3 linked regions of the Homo sapiens genome follow. The protein of the gene in region 1 binds, or shares a complex with, the protein of each later gene. Links are inferred from orthologs where the notes say so. Each region holds a gene or a part of one and is shown on either strand. Other genes may lie near its edges. A codon is read from its position in the direction of its gene.

Region 1 (8,238 bases):
AACCCACTACCACCAGCTGGCAGCCTGCTTTGGTTGAGGCAGGGATCTGAACAGAGGCCCTAACGGTCCCTTATCCGGAGACCAGACTTTCTCAACCTTACGGAGGGAGGTCTCCGCAGCACCCAAGGCCTGGGCCCCACCCTGGGGAGCCACATGGGAGGGGCCGTCTGGAGGCCAATTCAGGTCCTTATGTTCCGACGTGACGGGGGCGCGGGGCCACCCTCTAGGGAGACACGGGCCACGCTCAGGCGACGCGCAAAAGTTCCCGGTCCCTGGGACCCCCGCCCGCGCCCGCGTCGAGTCCCTCGAACCTGCTAGTTCTGGACACCCTGCTGCAGACTAAAGGGCTGGGAGGAAACCTCACAAAAACACGAAGGGGGTCTCCCCTGCCTCTCTGCCCCCGCCCGCGCCCGCTCCGCCCGGGACGCTCACCCGACGCCGCCGCCGCAGACCCAAGGCCAGAGCCGCTCCGCGTTCCTTCCGCCCAGGCGGGGGCGGGCGGAGCCTCCAGGCCGGGGCTGGCGGGGAGTCCACCCTGGGGGCCGCGCCCGCTAGTCGTCGCCCACTCGACCCTCTGGGCTCAGCCCCCGGGCCTCGTCCCAGCTACTACCCCAGCTTTCCCACTCCCCCCTGGGTCGGGGGTGAAGCCTGACGTCCGCATCCCGTTTCCCACTCTGGCCCCAACCAGCCTTTCCACCGTACAGCCGCCTTCCCCCAGACCATCCCTCCAGCTCTGGCAGCTCCCACCACCCTCGAGGGACCGGCCCCTGCCTCCTCCCACAAGCAGGCCGGATTCCAGGAATTGCCCAAACAATAAAATAAAGCAAACCTGAGACACCCCTTTTTGCTACCAGACTGGAGAAGGTGGAACAGGTTGACGATGATTTGTTGTAGCTGAGGCGAACGGGGCGAGGCTGTGAGGACGGGTTTTGGAGCGCCGCTCGGCCGTCCTCAAAACTTTGGACACACCCTCCGTTTCTGTCAGTCAAGAGTTCTTCATGCCTGAGCTCGGGAAGCATGTTCAAAATCTTTTTTTTTTTGTTTGGTCCCGCCTTTCTGGACCAAACCAATGGATATCTTAAATGTATTTCATTAATGCCTCATGTCTCTCTAAAACATGTAAAACCAAACTGCCCCAACCACCTTGGGCACATGTTCCCAGGATCCCCTGAGGGCTGTGTCACCGGCCGCGGTCACTCATATTCGATTCAGAATAAATCCCTTCAAATATTTTACATTTTAACTATTCTTATCGACAGTACATTTTTTAAAATAAGAATGGCCCTGAAAGATGTCCACCTCCTAATCTCCAAACCTGTGGTGTTACCTTAAGTGGCAAAAGGGACTTTGCAAATATTAAGAATATTGAGATGTGAAGGCTACCCTGGGGTGTCTGGGCGGCCGGCATATAATCATGAGAGTTCTTATGCAGAGACAGTAGGTTTTGAAGATGGAAGAAGGTGGCCTCTAGAAGTTGGAAGAGGAAAAGAAGCAGATTCTCCTTGGGAAACTCCAGAAGGAACTACCCTTGCCAACACCTTGATTTTAACCTCCTAAAACTCACTTCGGGCTTCTGAGCTCCAGGCCTATAAAACAGCCTGTGACAAATTCGTTATAGCAGGGATGAGAAAATAGCTCACTGCAGCCTCCTCTTCCAGGGCTCAAGTGCTCCTCCTCCCTCAGCGTCCCAAGTAGCTGGGACTACAAGCGTTCACTACCGCAACTGGCTAATTTTTTCTATCTTTTGTAGAGACGGGGGTCTCACTATTTTGGCCAAACTCAGTATGTTGGTCGCAAACTCCTGGGCTCAAGAGATCCGCCCGCCTCGGCCTCCCAAAGTGCTGGGATTACAGGCTGCAGCGCACCCAGCCTAATGTAACTTTTTTTTTTTTTTTTTTTTTTTGAGAAGGAGTTTCGCTCTTGTCAGCCGGCTGGAGTGCAGTGGCACGATCTCGGCTCACCGCAACCTCCGCCTCCTGAGTTCAAGCCATTCTCCTACCTCAACCTCCCAAGTAGCTGGGATTATAGGCGCCTGCCACCACGCCCGGCTAATTTTGTATTTTTAGTAGAGACGGGTTTTCACCATGTTGGCCAGGCTGTTCTCGAACTCCTGACCTCAGGTGATCCGCCTGCCTCTGACTGCCCGGCCCAGTGTAACTGTTAACGGCAACATCGTGTGCAGTCTCCGGCTTGCATTCGGTTTAGTCAGCCAATCGCTAAGACGACACTTGAGACCGTTTTCAGATCTTTAGGCTTTCCACCATCCTAGAAGGGGGCCTGCCTGGTTCTAAGGCCCTTCTGAAACACTGCCAAACTGTCCTCGGGAAACGGTGCAGAAGTCCTCTGGTTTCCCCCAAGGCGCGTGGGCACCTTGGCTGGAACCTCGCCCAGTAACACGACGTGCCTGGGGCCCCTTCGTCATTTCCGCCAACCCCGGTGACAACCCTGACACCGGCCCCTAAGTGCCATTCCAGTTATGTTGCTCTCCTCCCCGCAGCCCCAGGCGGCAGCTTCGCGGCCCGGCGTCCGGTCCCCCGGTGGTCCCGGAGCGAAGCTCCGCAATGGAGAGCGGAGGACCCTCCCTCCCCGACCTCGCACGACCAAGACCGCCCACCTTTCCCCCAACGCCCGGCTGTGGGAGCCGTTCGAGTCTTCTCCGCCAGGGCGCTCCTTCCCGGGAGGCCGCTTCTTTGGGGGAATAAGGTCAAGGATTACGGGATTTGGGGAAGCAAGCTCGGCTGGGCCAGGATTGCTTGCGTAGCTCGCTGGAATCTAAGGCACTAGAGGGCTTGACGGCCACGTGAGGACGAACCACGCAGGCGCAGCCCCGCGCCCCGGGCAAGGACTTCCGGCAAGCCCCAAAGGGGAGCGTGCACCGCGATGACGTCCTCAAGGCGCGCCACGTCCGCCCGGCGGCGCAGCTGCCCAGCGCAACCTCGGCCCCGCCTCGATAGCCCCGGACCCCTGCCCCGCCCGACCCCGCCCCGCCACGGGAGCGCGCCACTCGCCCGCGCAGCAACGGCCTCAATAGCGCCAGGCCCGCGTCTACAAGAAGCCCGACCAAGGCCGGCGTGGGCGAGGCCTGGCTAGACGCTGACGCACCGCTGGAGCTACTGACCTCGGGACGACTGGCGGACGGTCGCGGGCCTGGAGACCCAGAGCGAGACGGCCTACTTCGTTCTCGAGCCAGCAGAACGGGTTGAACGTGTCGACAACCCCACCCGCCAGTCAGCGGCGCGGGCGTGTTCGAGCCGGCTCGTGGGCGTGGTCAGGTGCGTGGGCGGGGACTACTGGGCGGGGCTCGGCGCGGGGGCGGGGCCTGGCGGGAGTAGTCTCGGGGTCGGGGCGGGGCCCGGCGGGCGGGGCTCGGCTAAGCACAGTCTTGGCGCAGCGGCGGGGCCTGGTGGGGCGTGGCTCGGTGAGGGAGGTCTCGCTTGGGGGCGTGGTCTCCCCCAGTAGGCGGGGCTTGGTGCCGGGGGCGGGGTCTGGCGGGCGCGGGCGCGTGTGCGTGTTGTGGGCCTCGCACTGGCACGCAAGTCTCAGCAATTCCTGAGAATCCTCGGAGGAAGAGGCCGGGGCCCGGTGCGGCAGCGCCTTGGGGGCGGAATCGCAGGCGCGGGTCGGGCCTTGCTGGGGCGCGGGGCGCGGCCCCCGGAGAAAGCGGCCGCCTCGGGACAGGAGGGACCCGGGAGAAACCCCCCTGGGGCGGCTCCGCATGTCGGGGTCGCGACTCTAGGCGACCTTGGTAGAGGGGCTCGTTTGCGCCGAGCTCGCGACCCCCGAGGGAGCCACGGCCCCGTGAACCACGCTGCCCGTCCTGGCCACTGGCTGCCGCCTTTGTTTCGTGGGACCCCAGCCCGCAAGGCCTGCGGAGCCGCGGCCTCGTCCCGAGTGTTCTGAGCGCGGTCCGAGCTGCTCCTGCGTCCACTCTGCTGCCGACACCCGAGCGTCGCCTGGAGCCCTGGCACTGAGGGGCGCAGGCCGAGTTCCAGACCAGCCTGGGAAACGCAAAGCGACCCCACCTCCACAAAAGTGGGTTTTCTTTAAGTTTTTGACTAGTCCGCAATTCACAGAATTGACATTTTGGCAGATGAAGATTGCAAGTAAGGAAACTAACGGTATCTCAGATTTGTTCTTTAGCAATTTGCTAAACCTCTCCTCTGACTGCCTTTATTAGGTATTTGTTTTCGAGACAGGGTCTCACTCCACTGCTTAGGCTGTACTGCAGTGGCGCGATCCCAGCTCGCTGCAGCCTCCACCTCCCGGACTCCAGTGATCCTCCCGCCTCAGCCTCCCAAGTAGCTGGTACCACAGGCGCCAGCACGCCTGGCTAATTGTTGTATTTTATGTAGAGAAGAGGTCTCCCTGTGTTGCCCAGCCTGGTCTTGAATTGGGCTCAAGTGATCCTCCTGCTTCAGCCTCCCATATCGCTGGAATTACTGGCATAAGCCACTACACCCGGCCTGATCATCTTTAAAGAAGGTGGTTCTGGCCGGGCGTGGTGGCTCACACCTGTAACCCCAACACTTTGGGAGACCGAGAAGGGTGGATCACCTGAGGTCAGGAGTTCAAGACCAGCCTGGCCAACGTGGTGAAACCCCATCTCTACTAAAAATACAAAAATTAGCCAGGCATGGTGGTGGGCACCTGTAATTCCAGCTACTTGGGAGGCTGAGGCAGGAGAATCGCTTGAACACGGGAAGCAGAGGTTGCAGCGAGCCTAGACCACACCATTGCACTCCAGTTCGGGCAACAAGATGAAACTCTGGCTGGGCGCGGTGGCTCACACCTGTAATTCCAACACTTTGGGAGGCCAAGGCAGGCAGATCACCTGAGGTCAGGAGTTCAAGACCAGCCTGGCCAAGATGATGAAACCCCATCTCTACTAAAATTACAAAAACTTAGCCAGGCATGGTGGTGCATGCCTGTAATCCCAGCTACTCAGGAGGCTGAGGCAGGAGAACCACTTGAACCCAGGAGGCAGAGGTTGCAGTGAGCCAAGATCGTGCCACTGTACTCCAGCCTGGGCAACAAGAGCGAAACTCCATCTCAAAAAAGAAAAAAGAAACTCCGTCTCAAAAAGAAGGTGGTTCACACACACACACACACACCCCCAAGAAAGCTCAGGGCTGGAAGGCAGCCAACCTGGCTGTGACCCTCATCCTGCACACGTGAGCTTGGTGACCAGTAGCTGATTCTTTAACTCTCTAAGCTTTGGAGTCTGGATGTGAGGTTTAGAATTCATGACAAGAAGCTGGAAGGATGCCGCCAGTCTGACTCCTGGACTGGTTCTCTTGACATCTTTGCAAAAGCTGCTGAAATGTTCTGGTTTCATTTCATTCTTTTCTTTGCCATGATCTCTTAGATTTGTTCGTGGCAATTCTCATAAGAGTGAAGAAAATGTTTAAAATGGCTGTTGGGCTCCCTTTTGTGACACCTTGTGGGGAAGGTGCCCAGGTATGTATAGGTGCTGAGCGCACGGCCAGCATGGTGTCTGTGGCCGGGCCTCCCTCCTGGACAGTGCGGCCACAGCCCCTGAAAGGTATGTCTTCATTTTTATTTTATTTTATTGAGATGGAGTCTCGCTCTGTCGCCCAGGCTGGAGTGCAGTGGCGCGATCTCGGCTCACTGTAAGCTCCGCCTCCCAGGTTCAAGCCATTCTCCTGCCTCAGCCTCCCGAGTAGCTGGGACTACAGGCACCTGCCACCACGCCCGGCTAATTTTTTTTTTTTTTTTTTTTTTGTAATTTTAATAGAGACAGGGTTTCAGCGTGTTAGCCAGGATGGTCTCGAGCTCCTGACCTTGTGATTCGCCCGCCTCAACCTCCCAAAGTGCCTGGCCTTCATTTTTATTTTTGAACTTACCTGCCTCACCTCGTTATGTCTTTATCTTATTTTTAAACTTACTCAGTTCACCCACTGTGGAATTGGGAGTATATGGAAGTATTCCCACCCCCAGTTTTATATACCGCCCCAGAGCTGACCATTCTCGCTCATTTCCCCGGGTCCTGGCCGACTCGAGTGTGCCTTTCCTTCCGATCCTGCTCCACACAGATCTGAGGGATGCTGCCCTTTCCTTCTCCACCTGCCCCTCCCTCACATCCAGCCCCACCAGCCTACACGTTAGCTTAAATAGGGAGCTTTTACATTCCCCATGAAAGGGAATCCAGGGACAGGCTGAGGCAAGAGACCCCCAGTGTTCATGAGATGCCATCTAGAGAAAACACCGTGGTGCTGAAGGCCTAAGTCAGACCCCGGGGAGAGAGGCACCAGGGTGACTTTGGGTGGAGAGTCCTGTGCCTGTTCTACTTCTATAAATATACTCAGGTCAGGCACGGTGGCTCACGCCTGTAATCCCAGCACGTTGGGAGGCCGAGGCAGGCGGATCATTTGAGGTCAGGAGTTCAAGACTAGCCTGGCCAACATGGTGAAACCCCATCTCTACTAAAAATACAAAAAAATGGCTGGGCACAGTGGCTCACACCTGTAATCCCAGCATGTTGGGAGGCCAAGGCAGGCAGATCATTTGCGGTCGGGAGTTCAAGACCAGCCTGACCAACATGGAGAAACCCCGTCTCTACTAATAATACAAAAATTAGCCAGGCATGGTGGCACATGCCTGTAATCCCAGCTACTCGGGAGACTGAGGCATAAGAATCGCTTGAACCCAGGAGGCAGAGGTTCTGGTGAGCCGAGATCACGCCATTGCACTCCAGCCTGGGCAACAAAAAGCAAAACTCCATCTCAAAAAAAAAATACAAAAAAATGAGCTGGGCGTGGTGGCCTGCACCTGTAATCCCAGCTACTTGGGAGGCTGAGGCAGGAGAATCACTTGAACCCAGAAGGTGGAGGTTGCGGTGAGCAGAGACCACACCACTGCACTCCAGCCTGGGTGACAGAGTGAACCATGTCTCTAAATAAATAAATAATATGTTTGTCTGAAAGTGCCTTTTTAACAAAGTATGAGATGTGTACATAAAGTGCACATAGCGCAAGTGTCGCACGCAGTGGATTTTCACACGCAGCACGTGAAATGGGAAAACACTGGCCCGGCACGGTGGCTCACACCTGTCATCCCAGCACTTTGGGAGGCCGAGGCGGGCGGATCACAAGGTCAGGAGATCGAGACCATCCTGGCTAACACGGTAAAACCGCGTCTCTACTAAAAATACAAAAAATTAGCCGGGCGTGGTGGCGGGCGCCTGTAGTCCCAGCTACTTGGGAGGCTGAGGCAGGAGAATGGCGTGAACCCGGGAGGCGGAGCTTGCAGTGAGCCAAGATCGCGCCACTGCACTCCAGCCTGGGCGACAGAGCTAGACTCCGTCTCAAAAAAAAAAAAAAAAAGAAATGGGAAAACATTGAGGATGAAGTAGCAAATATTTGAGAATTCAACTTGATTGGTGGCTGTTGCAGGTTCATACGTGAGTGGTTACGTAGTGGGTAGTTAAACTGACAATGACCAGCTGAATTTTGGTGACAGGACTGCTCCTAAGGTTTGAAATGTAGCGTATCCTCTGATTCACGGGCTAAGCTCTGCCACTTAGCAGGAGGAGCTCATGATAGAGCAGGTTGAGGGGAAAACTTTGCCCCATAAGGGTTCTTCACTGCAAGTGAGAAGGTCTTGGCTTTGAGCCTCCAATTTCAATCAGACAGAAAGCAGACCAGTCGGCAGGACAGTATATGCCTCTGGAGATCCGTGCTGATGTGGGGGCCTCAGATACAAGATGCCTCAGGGCCCAGGCGTGACCCTCTCCTTCCCTCCTGCACGGAGATGCTGTGAGAATTAGACACTCCCACAGGGCCCTGTCAGACACTGAGCTAGCCTCTGGGAACCGGAAGATATTCAAAACACCAGCCACCCCCCACACACACAGACAAGGCGCTGGAGGGACAGCTGTGCAGCGGCAGAGCATGAGAGGTCTTGATCAGTTAACTCAGTGAGGTTAGGAGGCGAATTTTTTTTTTTTTGAGATGGAGTCTTACTTTGTCACCCAGTCAGGAGTGCAGTGGCGTGATCTCGGCTCACTGCAACCTCCGCCTCCTGGCCTCAAGTGATTCTTCCGCCTCAGCCTCCCGAGTAGCTGGGACTACAGGTGCGTGCCACCACACCCAGCTAATTTTTGTATTTTTGGTAGAGACAGTGTTTCACCACGTTGGACAGGCTGGTCTCAATCTCTTGACCTCGTTATCTGCCTGCCCTGGCCTCCCAAAGTGCTGGGATTATAGGTGTGAGCCACAA
Region 2 (7,929 bases), on another chromosome or scaffold:
GCAACAAGCCATGTGCAAGTCACCGGAAAGGCAGGGGTCACATTTGGTCAGGGATGGCAAATGTGTGGCACACACACCCTTCCCCCTCTCGTGCCTTCGATAGAGGCTGTTGTTCAACCACACCACTGTCCAGAATTTTTTGCTACAGCATTTTGGGTAGGCACTTCCTTTTTTTTTTTTTTGAAACAGAGTTTCACTCTTATTGCCCAGGCTGGAGTGAAGTGGCACCATCTCAGCTCACTGCAACCTCCGCCTCCCAGGTTCAAGTGATTCTCCTGCCTCAGCCTCCCTAGTAGCTGGATTACAGGCACCTGCCACCACGCCCCACTACTTTTTGTATTTTTAGTAGAGAGGGGGTTTCACCATACTGGTCAGGCTGGTCTTGAACTCCTGACCTCAGGTGATCCACCTGCCTCAACCTCCCAAAGTGCTGGAATTATAGGTGTGAGCCACCACGCCCGACCGGCACTTCCAATTAGAGTTGGTACACAAACTGAAATCTACTTGCTATCCCTCAATTCCGTGCTCTCCAAAGTCACTTCTGGCTCTAAAATGTAAGGTTCTGGCTTTCCAACTAAGAGGTGCCCATTTTTCTGATTTAGTAATAGCTCACTCAAAAAAAAAAAAGGAAAATGGAAATTTAGGATCATAATTTCATTGAGTCCTCTTCCCCACCCTGAGGCTAAGCAGGATCTTCCTGAGGTCACACTTGCCTTCCTTCTGTGCCAGAGAATGATTGTATTTGAGCTTCACCCCTCTGTCAGTTCACCCTGCATGGCAGTGTCCCAGGCTGTAGCTCCCTTTTGTCTAAAACAGCCCACACTTAACAGTTTTATGTTTGGCATCAGGGAATCTACAAGGAAAGGAATTTTCTCAAGCCACTAAAATCCAAGTCAGAAGGGAAGGCATTTAATTACTCCATTCACCGTTCTCCAAAGTGAATCAGATTTACAGTTCTTACCCCTTGCTGGAAGGCAATGCCAGAAACAGTACCTAGACAGAACCGCTTCAGAAATCAGGTGTTTGCAACTGCGTTTTATTGAAAGAAAGAGTGGAGGGGTTAACATGGGGCCCACCTCACAACCCACTCTTCACCCCCAAAATCACGCAGGGATGGGACTCAGGAAAGGGAAGCATGTGTGTGTTGAATAGGAGCCCTAACTGTAGTTACTTCTTTCACAGCAGGGAAGGAAGAGGGAAGAGGCAGCTGTGGAGAGGATGAGGTTGAGGGAGGTGGGGTATCTCGCTGCTCTGACCTTAGGTAGAGTCCTCCACAGAAGCATCAAAGTGGACTGGCACATATGGGCTCCCTTCACAGGCCACAATGATGTGTCTCTCCTTCGGGCTGGTCCGGTATGCACAGTTGGGGTACCTGGAGCCGTTTGTCAGGCGGCAGTCTGTGATGTGCATGCTGGAGTTGCTCTTGTAGCAGTTGCCCTGCCCGTTCTTGCAGGTGACCTTTTCCTGGAAACAGACATTCTGGACATCTACCAGGGGCTCGTGCACAAAGGTGTTCACTGGTTTGCACCGCCCCTGTGTCATATTCCGGCGCCTCATCATTTGGTTACAGTAGGTGGAGCTGCTGCTGGGGGAACTGTCTGAGTCCATATGCTGCCGCTGGAATTTCTTGGCCCGGGATTCCTTGCCCAGGGAAGGCTGGACCCAGCCCAGCACCAGCAGTATCAGGACAAGCAGAAGGAGCCGGACAAGAGACTTCTCCAGAGCCATGGTGGCCTCACTTTCCCAGAAAAGCCTAATTGAGAAAAGGAGAGAGAAGGAAAAGAGCCCTCTTAGAAAAAGAACTCCAGCTCCCACCTATGGCTTGCCTGGTTTACACTTTCTGTTTCAGGTCAGCCAGAAAGACGTCCATCCTACTTCCTGAGGTTTTTCGTGTAATGAGACACTCACGTGTACCCTTTTCCACGAGCGTTTTATTCCCACTCTCCAAAGCGAGGTCTTCCTCCCCTCTAGGTGGTGACCTACAAAGTGACCTAAAATCCTGTCAGTTCCTATCTTTGAATACTGGAGTTTCTTTGATCCAAAATACATTTGTACCCAGTGCTCAAATGGCTCATCGAAACATCAGTTTGAATAAATCATGAACCAAATTGTATCCCCGACATCCAGGGCCATGGGTGACAGAGCCTTGTTGTCTTGGAGCATAAGGGAACTCAGGCCAGTGCCTGACACTGGCATCATAAAAGATTCCATTGTATTCCAGAGAGAAACGCTGGCCTCCCCCAATTTGGAGGCTCCTTCTTCTCCAGTCCCATGGATGCTCTGCAGCCTGCACGTTCCACCCTGACCCCTCTGCCCCCAGCTGATGTTTGCCTGGGCCACATTTTTTCAGCGCTAGCATCACCCAATCTTTCTCAGTGCTGTGGACTGGCCCTAGCTCCCTCTTCTGCAACCCTGAAGCAGAAGCGGCACCTGAGAACACCTCTTGGGCTGCTTACCTGGATCTGCAGCTTGGTGTCTGAGAGAGATGGAAGGCCAGTTTCTGCAATCACTCAGCTCCCGGGGTGTGGACCTTATACAGATTACAAAGGGGTTTGGCTTCCAAGAGGAAAAGGGTGGGAGGAGCATCTGGAGCTCAGTTCAAATAAAATCAAGGACGTGAGGAAGGAGTGGTGAATCACCCAGGCCGCCGTCTTTCTAGGGCTGCTGAAGAAAGAGCAAATCTTTGCCTACGTTAGTCTTTCTTCCTATGTGAACCACATCTGTCTGCTGATGCACAAGGAGCAGCAGAGAAAGCCACTACAGCACTGGTGCCCAAACCTGGCACACTAGGAACAAAGTCCTTGTTACTTCTTCGTGGGCGTTTTCACCAAGTAGACTTGGAGGTTAACAAAGGACGCAAAGGAGAGGTTCTAATGGGAGATAGGGAATTCTGGCCAAAGCTATTCCAGGGCTCCTAGGGAGCAAAACCCAAGTCTCTTTCTAGGAGGGCATTCTCCCAACGCTACCTCTCCCGGGGATGGGAGGCGGGGTCGGGGGGAATGGAGGCTGTCCTGCTGCCCCCAGCTGGAAGGCTTCCCAGATCTGGAGAAGAAAGGGGGAGTAACTGAATAGGGAGGAGGAGGAGGCCTCTAGGGTGCGCTCACCCAGTTCTGGCCACTTCCCACCCACCCTCCACCCCTGCTCTGGGGGCATCGAGAGGATGGGGCTGTTCTTATCTACAGTAACCACTGACCCTGTAGGTCGGAATTGAGTAGAGGAACTAAAGATAAACTTAAATCCCAAATCTCAAATTCTTTTTGGGGAAAAAATACAAAGAATATCATATTTATTAGCAGCAGAATGCCCTCCTAGAAAGAGACCTGTTTTTTTGCTGAGTAACAATTTGGATACCTCTAAGAATTATCAAAATATCCCTTCGTGCTGTGTATTCAGATTGTTTCAGCCTTTCTGTGTAAAAAGTGGCCATAGTGAAATTATCTGACCTACCTTGTGTGATTGTAGGTCGTAAGATCCTCATTCCAGAGAGGGTCCTGCCCCCCATACCCAGAAAAAAAGGACGAATGCTCAGAGAGGCCAAGAAGAATCTAGACAGGGAGGCCTTGCTGGGTTTCCCCACTCAGTCTATTTTCATTAGATCGCCCTGTTGTCCAGTCATATTTCTACACAGCTGTTCATACTTTGTTGATATCCAAGTGTAAGAATGCCCACTTTCCCCTGTTATCTTTGGGTCTTCTGAAGGCTCCCGTGTCGTGTAAAACTACGATCAAATCAATTTGTATGCGTTTTTTCCTATCAATCTGTCTTTTGTCAGTTGATTTTCAGCAAACCTTTGGAGGGTGAAAGGGGAATTTTTCCTTGGCCCCTACAGTTTCCTTACTCCCCCAGCCCCCACCTGTATTTTATTTTTCTGAGTCTTTAATAATACTTTTATTCTCTTGAATAGTCAAGTTAGAATGTGTTCATTCATTCATTAGACTGTGGGATACAGACATAAATAAGGCACAGGACTCACCTGAAGGGCGCCTGGTGGGATGGTTTGGTTAGTCAGGTGGACCCCACTAAGGCACTGGGCGTGGCTGCACAAAAGTGGCCTCCACCCAGCAAGATGATTTCAGAACCACAGTTCAGATGTGAACAGATCTTCTGTAACTATAATAAGGCTCTTCAACAGCCCCTGGCCCTAGGAATCCTGAAACTACAGGAAGCCATTTTGTCTATTTATGCATAGCAATCTAGACAAGCCCTTGGAGCTTTAATTGCACTTCAATGGGGAACCATCAGAAGCCCTTACTGCAGCCTTATCCTTGACCCAGTTGCAGAGGCATAGCCCCGCTTGTCTTAGGGCAGTAGATGCCATGGCAACATTTGTTGTTGCTTCTGCTGAACTTGTTCTAGACTCCCTGCTTGACCTCCTGGTTTCTCACGCAGCACAGGCATTACACCTGACTGAGAACTCACTGCACACTTCAGGCAGCCGATTAACCTCTTATAAGATTCTATCCCTCTCTCCCTCTCATAAATTACTACTCATCTCTGCAACACACTGAATTCTGCCACCCTCTGTCCCTACCAGAAGGGGAGCCTCTTGATTGTCTTACCTCAGTAGGAAACATTCTGCATGTCAGTCAGATTTATTAGCAACTCCTATTGAGAACCCGGACCTAATATGATTTATTGATGGAACATACCCCAGAATTGAAACTTGAAGTTAGTACACTGAGGAAAGAAAAATCAATTCTTCCTTTACCCTCCTAGAGGGCTGGGGGCCCTGTAAATTAAAATGACAAAAGACAGATTTAACAGGAGAAAAGGCATAAAAATTTAATTTAATATTAATATTCTACATGAATATGGAAGTCTTCATAAAAAAAGAAGTGAAGACTCAAAGAAGCAATTAAACCTGAGAGTTTATAGGCCATTTTGACAAAGAAAATTGTGCAGAAGTGACAAGACAGTGTTCCATGAAAGGGCCACATATGTGAAGTGGCCCCAAATGCTGAAGGAGCCTAGAAACTAAAGAAAGGCAGACAAATTCAGTTTGTCAGTAAAGCGTGTTTTATTCTATTGGGGAACTTATAGCCAGAAGTGTCGTCTTGGGCAGCAGCAAGACATGTAAATCTCAGCACTGTTATTCCCCAGACCCAGAGCTTATATACCATAGGGAAAAGGGGTACGTGCTATATAGAGACAATGAAAGGCAACTCTTCAGAACAGGCAAGAATGCTGTGTTTGTCATAGCCCATAATTTGCATGATAACGTTAAGGTTGTTTTGATCTAAAGGCAGGATTTATAGTGAATACATGTTTCTACACTAGAGACAGTAAATAAAGTAGAAATCAGGAGGCATTCCCGGGACATGGTTAATCAGACGTCAACATGGTAGATTAGCATTCAAGATGGAGTCACTTTTGTCTCTGCACATAGGAAAGGGATTTTGAGCTTCTGGGGAGGTTGCGACAAGCGGACTAGGAAATGTATAGTATATAAGGGTTGTTTAGTAAAGTTTGTTAAGCAAATTCAAGTTGGTTGTCTTCTCCATTGATAAGTCCTCCGTGATTAAGTCCTCCTCTTCCTGGCACAGGAAAGGGAGACATCCATACAAATGGGAATATAAATGGAAATTTCTCTTACAAAAGGGAAACTTGGCTAGGCATAGTGGCTCACTCCTGTAATCCCAGCCCTGTGGGAGGCCAAGGCAGGCAGATTGCTTGAGTTTAGGAGTTTGAGACCAGCCTGGGCAAGGTGGCGAAACCCTTTTTCTACAAAATATACAAAACTAGCCATGCATGGTGGCATGCTCCTGTAGTCTCAGCTACTCAGGGGGATGAGGTGGAAGAACACTGGAGATGGAGGCTGCAGTGAGTCGTGATTGTACCACTGTACTCCAGCCTGGGTGACAGAGAGAGACACTGTTTAAAAAAAAAAAAAGGACATTTATAGTTCTTTCACAGCAGGGAAGGAAGAGGGGAGAGGCAGCTGTGGAAATGATGAGCCCTGTTTTTTGAGTTTTTCCTGCATTTACTGTTTTTCAAAATAATCAACTCAAAATTATTGAGCTGGCATATTCTGGTTCCCTACATTATTAATAGGCTATGCTACCCCTATTTTAAACTCTTCTTAAGAAAAAGTCTACTACCTGCAGTAAAATCAGCCCAGATAGCAAAATGTATTGCATTTACTAGAATTTGTCACCTAAACAAAGACCAGAGAGCAAACATATATACAGACTGCAGGTATGCTTTTGAAATAGCATATGATTTTGAGATGCTTTGAAAATAGGCATTAGAAGACCAGGCATGGTGGCTCGTACCTGTAATCCCAGCACTTTGGGAGGCTGAGGCGGGTGGATCACCTGAGGTTGGGAGTTCGAGACCAACCTGACCAGCATGGAGAAACCCTGTCTCTATTAAACATACAAAATTAGCCGGGCATGGTGGCACATGCCTGTAATCCCAGCCACTCAGGAAGGCTGAGGCAGGAGAATCGCTTGAACCCAGGAGGCAGAGGTTGCGGTGAGCCGAGATCGTGCCATTGTACTCCAGCCTGGGCAACAAGAGCAAAAACTCCGTCTCAAAAAGAAAAGAAAAGAAAAGAAAATAGGCATTAGAAATGGACAGCAAGTTAAGGAACTTTCAGATGCACCCCCACTTCCTAGAGAAGTGGCTATTATATAGGTAGAGGTCCATATAAAAAGAGACAATATGGAAACTAAAGGAAATTCTCTAGCAGATCATTATGCCAAAGAAGCTACTTTAACCAAGCTTATGACTCTATCTATACCTTTAAAGGATAAATCTCTGGGGGATTCAAAGAGGCCATTATAAAATATTGACATTTAGCCCCTGATTTTGAAAAAGAATGGAAAACATCTAGTTGTACTCTTCACTCAGATAATTCCTGGTGCTGCTTGGTGACACCAGATGATCTCAAGTAGATATTTCTAAAGGAGTTCAAAACATACCACCCCAAAATATGCCTTTCTGGCATATGGATTATTTTGAATTAAAAGCTCTTGAAAAACAGCAGATGCAAGAAGGGCACTCTGATCTTTCTAAAAGCAGGAGACAATGCTCCCACGTAGCAGGGACCCTCCGTGGAAGAAGGAAGACATTCTTATTACCAGAGATGGGGGCAGCTGAGGTTGAGAGAAAACTACAAATAAACCTTGTTAAACTAGCCCTTATCTCCCTAGCCACTTCTCCACGATTAACAGCCCTAGCCCATATCCCTTTGACTTGTTTTCACAATTTACTGTTCTTTGTCTAACTTAGTATATAAGCATCCACTCAGACTGGTTCATTTCCAGAAGGCTTCCATGCCATGTAAAACTTACATTAAATAAATGTGTATGCTTTTCACTTTTTAATCTGCCTTCTGTTACAGAGCCCCGCCTTAGAACTTAAGACAAATAAGAAAGATATTTCCTCCCCTACATTATCTGGATTTCTCCATGAAACACCCATTATGGCATAGACAAATTGGTTACTATCTTAAGTAAACATTGGTAGGAAAACTTTGAAAAGGCAACTGAGCTTACTTTTGGGTCATGTGTCACCTGTCAAAAATATAACTCTGGAAAAACTGTAAAGTTGGGACATGGCCAGAAACCAAAGCCTCTTTGGACACCTTCGGACTGTTACATGGAATAAAACCTTAGACAAGTGTACATTTTAGCTGAGTTTATTTGAGCAAAGAAAAGCAGAACAAAACAAAGCAAACAAAGCAAAAACAAAACAAAAAAAAGCAGTTCAAAAATCAGGCACGATTTGGAACTAGAGGAAATTCAGAGAACTCCAACCAATGACATAATCTGATAGCATTTATAGGAGACAAAAGAAGCATGGTACAGAGGCAGCTTAATTGGTTAATTGGTTACAGAGTCTCCTGCAATTAGTTAAAGCTCAGCTGCAACATATTGTAAGCCTGTAAACAACTAAGCCTAACAGATCAAACAACACACCGTATCT
Region 3 (7,039 bases), on another chromosome or scaffold:
CATGTGCATTTTCAGCTTTTTCACTGCAGCCCCTATATCTCTTGGGATAGAAATCATGTCAATAAAAACCAGACTTCAACCATAGAGCATCATATAGGACCTCAGTATCAAATTGGGCTCAATTGTGAAATACAACTAAAACAAGTGGAGATCTATACTCGTTATAGGTTGGTGTCGGGAAGGGGTCAGTGGATGGAAAATTACCTAGAGGAGATATCAAGGCTAGGGAGACCAATGCTAAGTTGATGTAATTGGATTTTTGTTTTTTGAAGGTAGGTCAGGAATCAGTTATCACATGGAGGATGATGGGGGAATTAAGGAATTTGGTCAAATATTGAGGGTGAGAGACTCATGATAAACCAAGTTAGGAGGACTTCTGTTAAACCTGACTTTAGGTCTGGCACTGGTGGCTCATGCCTCTAATCCCAGCACTTTGGGAGGCTGAGGAGGGCGGATTGCCTGAGGTCAGGAGCTGGAGACCAGCCTGGCCAACATCTTGAAACCCCCTCTCTAAAAATTACAAAAATTGGCTGGGTATGATGGTGCATAACTGTAATCCCAGCTACTCGGGAGGCGGAGGAAGGAGAATAGCTTGAACCTGGGAGGTGGAGTTTGCAGTGAGCTGAGATCTCGCCACGCACTCCAGTCTGGGCGACAGAGCGGGACTCTGTCTCAAAAAATAAAATAAATAAAATAAAATAAAATAAAATAAAATAAAATAAAATAAAATAAAAAATAAATACAAATGACTCTACAAGGAAGGACTAGGAAGCCCAACAGGATGACCTAGTTGTGAAGAGGGTTTAGAGGAGATGACTAAAGCTTGATCAAAGCAAGAGTCTTCGACAGTTGCTAGATATCGGTTGAGACCTCAGCTTCTCAGCCTAAAGCAGGGAGAGGGATAAGACTGTGCTGTTTCATGACAGAAAGCGTCTCTTATCTTCAAATCTCTCTGTTTCCCGGAAGTCTCAGGTTAGAGGAAGAAAAATCTCTAGAGTAGATTGTCACTAAATGACAGCAGAGCGGCTAATGAAGACACACAGACACTTTCAGATGAATTTGCAAAGCAGTTTATTGCAGGGTTCACAAGGCACTTCAGCTCAGGAAAGCTGAAGGGGTATGGAGACTGATGAGGACAGATGCTGATACCCAAAGTATATGGAGAGATGGGATCTTGGCTATGATTGAGGAGCTTGGCAGATGAGTGATGATGAGGAGTGCTGATACAGGAGCTTAGATGATTCTATCCAGGTGAACTGGAACCACCGGATACTGTGGAGGGTCTCGTCGTTGATCTCTGTTGTCACATGCAACTATATAGAACATGTTTGCTGGTGTCTGCGCATACCTGCAGTTTGAAATATTCTGTGGACTTGGAGTTGTGAGGTTACAGTGGATTAAAGGCACCTGGCTTCCACTGTGGTGACAATTTTTGCGAGTTTTGTTACTAGGACAGGTCATATTTGGGTTACCACAAACATTAACTACGTTAGCAAAAGTTGTAAGAAGGAAAGTATTTTGGTTTTTGCATCGCCGTTGATAATTGTTAATGACCTGCATTGCATTGGTGCATTGCTGGGAGGTCATATTGATGTGCTGGGTTTCAAACCATTGAGCCCAGGTAAACTGTGGAGGTTTGACATGGAGTGAGCCCTCCACAGCCAGAAGCCCCAACAGAAGAAGCAGACAAATTTGGGAAGTGAACAGTTTTGGAACCATGTTTCCTGTAAGAAAAGAAGAGAAGTAACTACTCCCTGATCGGGTCTTGGTTATGACACACACTGTAGTGTCTTACCCCACAGGCCCCTCTGCGGCCACTCTGGGGTCCCATTTCCTTTACTTCCTGTCTGCAAAGTGTGCAACGTCTCCTAAGCACTAACGTCAGCTCTCTTCTCCCTCAGTTGCTGCCCCATTGCTGCCCCTTCTGTCCCAGCTCTGGGGATCGTTGACTTACCCAGTCTCCGCGCTGTAGCTCCTGTGAGAACTGATCCAGCTGGTTGTTCTGGGGTTCAGGGGCAGCTGGTCTCCCCTACTTGGAACTGTTTAAATAAAGCATCCCTTGGTGGGTTGGGCCAGCAGAGCCCAGAGGGAGGGTCTGGCTCTTGGCCATGCAGAAACCCACAGATTGGTACATAGTCCACTTGTGCAATCATCCTTTTTATTTGATGACTTGGCTGAGCAACGGATACCCAAGGACAGCCCTGCTGCTCTTTCTGCTATAAGGACTCTAATTCCAAGTCATCCTGTGTAAGACAGAGTTTTGCTGGTTAGATCCAAACTCTGGATGAAAACTATATGCTGCCTGCAGAATGACCACAGATTTTATAACTGTCCTCTGGCAGGCCACTAAATGACCAAAGTACATGAAGGCAGGCATAGTAGTTAGAACAAATAGAGCCACTGAGGGCTGTTTGCCCAGGAGAAACCCAGCTTCCCTTTCATTTTTAGTAATATCCTTGGTTCTCTCTCACACAAATGCTCTCCATCTCATCCACCACTCTTGCTGGAAACTTGAGCTATTAATTTCTTAGGGCACAAGATTCTGTAGATAATTAAAACAATCTGCTACACATACTTGAGGGATTTTTTTCTTTACTCCTCTTGCATTGGATCCACTTTCTCTTAAGTCTTGCCCTGATTATTGCTTCCACTTTGTGTAAAGTTACACAACCTAAAAACACACCGAGGACAGTTGTAAAGTCTGGCAGAGAATGAATGAACATTTGGTGTCATGAAAGATTCCAACCTAGCACTCGGTATTCCTGTGATCTTTTCAGCCTATGGTATTTTCTACAAAACACTGTGTTCTGGGGTTGTCATTCATCTTCCTGGTAAGTTTCATTTTGTGATATTAACAAGAAAATGGTTCTGTATTTACAAATGAACATTTAAGGACAGAGCACTGTATTCCTGAAAGTATAGAGGTCAAGTGTACAGTTTGATACACAAAGCATACATTTATTCTTGGCCCTCAGAGACATACAGGAAAGTAATTGTAGACACATAATTGTATTACACTTGTGTGAACATGGTTTCATGGGGACGCCGAGGGTGAAGGAAATCACTTGGCTTGAGGGACAAGGAAGACTTCAAAAAAAAAAGTTTGATTTCAGCAGGGCCCTAAAAGATAAGCAGGGAGTTTTCAGGGACTTTAGGGAAGAGATGAGCATTCTGGGCACAGGGGATGATGTGGGGAAATTGTACAGAGGTGGGAAGTGAATTGCAGTGGTAAGACCTGAGTACTAAGAGATGTTAAATCTGGTCTAGCTTTCAGATTAGAAAATTGATATTAGACCCTTAAATGATATAATATACCTTCCAACAGTTAATCTACATAATTTTTACTACCATCCAATTTTCCTGTCATTTAGAAATGCAATAATTTTATCACTGGGGTCCTTAGGTAAATGTGGACACAATGGTGACCCAGTGAGGACTCAATGCGCAGCTAATATTGCTCTGCCTTGAAGTCCTCTTCTGGCCGACATTCATTAGCAGCTTTATCATGAAGCAAATTCTTTTTTCATGTATATTGTGTGGAGATCATTTTTGCAGGTGATGAGAATGTAAAGGTGAATGATACGTAGAGTATCCGCTCTGTGATGCTGACAGACACACTGGGTAGAAAGACTTGCACTCAAGTGTCTATAGTATGAGGCAAAAGACATAGACTGCAGCCCCAGGGCAGGTACCTGGCTAAACAGTGCCTCTTTTCAGCATATACAGTGCTATTTATAATGTTTGGTTTGGAAGGTAAAGTTTGACATTGGAATAGTTCACTAAAAGTTTTCATTACTGTCTTATCTTTAAAAATCACATGATGTTGGTTGGTGCACTGTGTCTCCGTTGCTGTGTGGTATCAATTAGAGCTGGGTAAAGCTGCCTCTGTGGAAGGGGCTCTAGCTCGGGGCTGTTCTCTGACTCCATCTCTGCCTCCTGACTTTCATCCTGTCTGTTCAGTAATGACACCTGCCTGGCTTCTGGAGACATCTGTGCTTATGACGCATCAGACTTGTTGCAGTGTCTTAAGAAATAACTCAGACCATACATAACCTGCCCAATTTGCAACCATATTCATCCTTTAAAATTGTGGTTTTTTTTTTTTTTTTGAGATGGAGTCTTGCTGTTGTTGCCCAGGCTGGAGTGCAGTGGCGCGATCTTGGGTCATTGCAACCTCTGCCTCCCGAGTTCTCCTGCCTCAGCATCTCGATTAGCTGGGATTACAGGCACCCTTCACAATGCCCGGCTAAATTTTGTACTTTTGGTAGAGACAGGGTTTCACCATGTTGGCCAGGCTGGTCTCAAACTCCTGACCTCAAGTGATCCGCCCCCCTGGACTTCCCAAAGTGCTGGGATTATAGGCATGAGCCACCACTCCTGATCACTAAAATTGTATTGAGAACATGCTCATAAGATTTTTCTGATTCTCCCTTGTGTAGATTTCCTGTGTACATTTCCAACTACTTTCATTTGCCTGCAGAACTTTAGAAAAGATCTACTTTGATATTTACGAGCTTTGGGAGAAGACTGTTTTATATGAAGCAGGAATAATAAAGTATAAGCCAACGGTAAACAAAATTCTCTGTGACTTCAGCATGATTTTGTCTTGAACAGACACAAGCCACTTCTCCCGGGTTCTTTATTAGCATAACTTGTCTTGCAGCCTAATTTAACGACACATTTTCAGACCCAATGCACACTTCCACTCAGAGGAATAGTCAGAATTATGCCCCAGTATTAAGTCATTTTTTGGAAACCGATGAACATTGTAAAATATTGTCCCAGACAAAGACTTCTCCATTTATGGTAAAAACCACTGTTGAGTACACTGCATTGATCAATGACTTTTTGCATAGCATTTATGTGCAAAAATATAATGTTTAACACTTGCAATTTCTTCAGCCCCAGGGTACCCTTGCAATATTTGCTCTTAACCTGCTGACAGGGAGGTACCAAACCATAGATACCTTCCTGCACACAGATTTCCCTAATGCAGCAGTGGCTATCTATGGGAAAGACAATGCACACTATTTATTAGGTTGGTGCCAAAGTAATTGCAATTTTTGCCATTAAAAGTAATACAAGATTGTCATAATAATATGGTGCAGGTTAAATTGCACCAAATTGAGTAATATTTTACTTACCTAATTTCTAAAGATATTTGGTGTACTGAGCTCTTCCTGGTCTCTTAAACCTCAGAAAGGTGGCCCTAGGCCTTCCCTCTTATGTGGGGCCTCCTGCATGTCTCCTCTGAAAGCCATTGAATAAGTAGATCTGACCCCTTCGATTAAGTTTCTGGCATGAAAGAGGAAAGAAGTAAGCCTTCTCCTTTTTCCTCAACTATAACAAGTCCTTTACTTCTCTGGAAAGGGAAGAAATGGGAATAGAGCCCCGATGGAATTATGGAGAGGTGTGTCTTAGGAGGGATGAAATAAAGTGTGTTTCCTAAGAAACTGGAAAATTGCATTCGTGTCCCATTGCATATTTTTAAAATCTTTCTTTCTTTCTTTTTCTTTTTCTTTCTTTCTTTCTTTCTTTCTTTCTTTCTTTCTTTCTTTCTTTCTTTCTTCCTTCCTTCCTTCCTTCCTTCCTTCCTTCCTTCCTTTCTTTCTTTCTTTCTTTCTTTCTTTCTTTCTTTCATTCTTTCCTTCTTTCTTTCTTTCTCTTTCAGATGGAGTCTCACTCTGTCACCCACGCTGTAGTGCAGTGGCAAGATCTCAGCTCACTGCAACCTCTGCCTACCGGGTTCAAATGATTCTCCTTTCTCAGCCTCCCGAGTAGCTGGGATTACAGGCGTGCACCACCACGTCCAGCTAATTTTTCTATGTTTGTAGAGATAGGGTTTCACCACGTTGGCCAAGCTGGTCTTGAACTCCTGACCTCAGGTGATTCGCACACCTCAGCCTCCCAAAGTGCTAGGATTACAGGCGTGAGCCACGGCGCCTGGCCTTATTTCTTTTTATTGATACATAATAGAGGTACATACTTTCAGGGTACATGTGATAATTTAATATATTCACATAATGTGTAAAGATCACATCGGGGAAACTGGGATATCGAGTACCTTAAATATTTGCCTCTTCTTTATGTTAGAAACATTCAAATTATTCTCTTCTAGCTATTTTGAAGCATACAGTAGATTATCATTAACTATAGTCATCCTCCTGATCTATCAAACACTAGGCCTTATTTCTTATATCATTTCTTATATTTGTACCCCTTAAACATCCTCTGTTCATCCCCATTGCATTTTGAGCACACAGATGCATTTGCTAAGATTTCAGAGCTCACACAAAATGAATTATTATATAGGTTAGTGTCTCTTTAAATGAAGTTGTTATATAAGTTTTGTGTTACAGCGATGTCGGGTATAGATTTTGTATAGTCTTGTCCAGATACCAGCTCTGACATTTTCTATTTGAGGCTCTTACTATAAGAGTTGTACAGGGCCAGGTGCTGTGACTCATGCCTGTAATCCCAGCACTTTCGGAGGCCAAGGTAGAGGGGTCACTTCAGGCGAGGAGTTTGAGACCTGCCTGGCCAACATGGAGAAATCCTGCCTCTACCAAAACCACAAAAATTAGGTCGGGCGCGGTGGCTCATGCCTGTAATCTCAGCACTTTGGGAGGCTGAGGTGGGCGGATCATGAGGTCAGGAGATCGAGACCATCCTGGCTAACATGTTGAAACCCTGTCTCTACTAAAAATACAAAAAATTAGCCAGGCGTGGTGGCACGGGCCTATAGTCCCAGCTACTCGGGTGGCTGAGGCAGGAGAATCGCTTGAACTCAGGAGGCAGAGGTTGCAGTGAGCCGAGATCACCTGCACTCCAGCCTGGGTGACAGAGTGAGACTCCATCTCAAAACAAACAAACAAACAAACAAACAAAACACACACACACACAGACACACACACAAATTAACCAGGCATGGTGGAGTGCACCTGTAATCCCAACTACTCAGGAGGCTGAGGTAGGAGGATCACTTGAACCTGGGAGTCAGAGTCTGCAGTTAGCCGATACTGCGCCACTGCCCTCCAGC

What was found.
Region 2: the proteins of RNH1 (region 1) and RNASE1 are in contact, whole or in part, in a crystal structure (PDB 3TSR), measured with the Mus musculus proteins. The link is inferred for Homo sapiens from one-to-one orthologs. Residues at the interface, in NP_001165571.1 of Mus musculus: Cys7, Asp32, Thr60, Asn89, Asp117, Glu145, Tyr146, Asn174, Glu202, Trp257, Trp259, Glu283, Ser285, Trp314, Lys316, Glu340, Glu397, Ser401, Asn402, Gln426, Val428, Tyr430, Asp431, Ile432, Tyr433, Trp434, Thr435, Asn436, Glu437, Arg443; in NP_035401.2 of Mus musculus: Arg26, Glu27, Lys32, Gln36, Pro48, Thr49, Gln53, Lys56, Arg57, Met60, Asn62, Gly63, Ser64, Cys65, Lys66, Pro67, Val68, Asn92, Lys94, Asn96, Leu111, Lys112, Gly113, Asn114, Ser115, Lys116, Asp121, Ala134, Glu136, Val143.
Region 3: the proteins of RNH1 (region 1) and RNASE2 are in contact, whole or in part, in a crystal structure (PDB 2BEX), measured with the Homo sapiens proteins. Residues at the interface, in NP_002930.2 of Homo sapiens: Gln11, Cys12, Arg34, Asp36, Asp37, Arg64, Ser65, Gln93, Asn94, Asp122, Gln148, Glu150, Tyr151, Thr176, Lys205, Trp262, Trp264, Glu265, Trp319, Lys321, Gln347, Ser349, Asn350, Trp376, Ala378, Asp379, Glu402, Asp404, Asn407, Cys409; in NP_002925.1 of Homo sapiens: Lys28 (codon at 1,638), Trp34 (codon at 1,620), Trp37 (codon at 1,611), Gln41 (codon at 1,599), His42 (codon at 1,596), Ser47 (codon at 1,581), Gln49 (codon at 1,575), Thr51 (codon at 1,569), Asn52 (codon at 1,566), Gln55 (codon at 1,557), Val56 (codon at 1,554), Asn59 (codon at 1,545), Gln61 (codon at 1,539), Arg62 (codon at 1,536), Arg63 (codon at 1,533), Cys64 (codon at 1,530), Lys65 (codon at 1,527), Asn66 (codon at 1,524), Gln67 (codon at 1,521), Ser91 (codon at 1,449), Asn92 (codon at 1,446), Arg95 (codon at 1,437), Asn97 (codon at 1,431), Asn111 (codon at 1,389), Leu112 (codon at 1,386), Thr113 (codon at 1,383), Thr114 (codon at 1,380), Pro115 (codon at 1,377), Asn119 (codon at 1,365), Ile120 (codon at 1,362).

Annotation. Positions count from the first base shown.
Region 1 is NC_000011.10:503,995-512,232, forward strand, and holds the start of RNH1 (ribonuclease inhibitor), read right to left. Parts: upstream 3,249-8,238; 5' UTR 3,119-3,248; exon of another isoform or gene 2,468-3,118; intron 1,008-2,467; exon of another isoform or gene 1,003-1,007; 5' UTR 830-1,002; intron 483-829; exon of another isoform or gene 433-482; intron 1-432. UniProt on the Homo sapiens protein: Ribonuclease inhibitor which inhibits RNASE1, RNASE2 and angiogenin (ANG). May play a role in redox homeostasis. Required to inhibit the cytotoxic tRNA ribonuclease activity of ANG in the cytoplasm in absence of stress.
Region 2 is NC_000014.9:20,800,341-20,808,269, forward strand, and holds RNASE1 (ribonuclease pancreatic precursor), read right to left. Parts: upstream 2,505-7,929; 5' UTR 2,457-2,504; intron 2,025-2,456; exon of another isoform or gene 1,909-2,024; intron 1,754-1,908; 5' UTR 1,729-1,753; coding exon 1,258-1,728; 3' UTR 888-1,257; downstream 1-887. UniProt on the Homo sapiens protein: Endonuclease that catalyzes the cleavage of RNA on the 3' side of pyrimidine nucleotides. Acts on single-stranded and double-stranded RNA.
Region 3 is NC_000014.9:20,950,452-20,957,490, reverse strand, and holds RNASE2 (non-secretory ribonuclease precursor), read right to left. Parts: upstream 2,005-7,039; 5' UTR 1,955-2,004; intron 1,725-1,954; 5' UTR 1,720-1,724; coding exon 1,234-1,719; 3' UTR 1,055-1,233; downstream 1-1,054.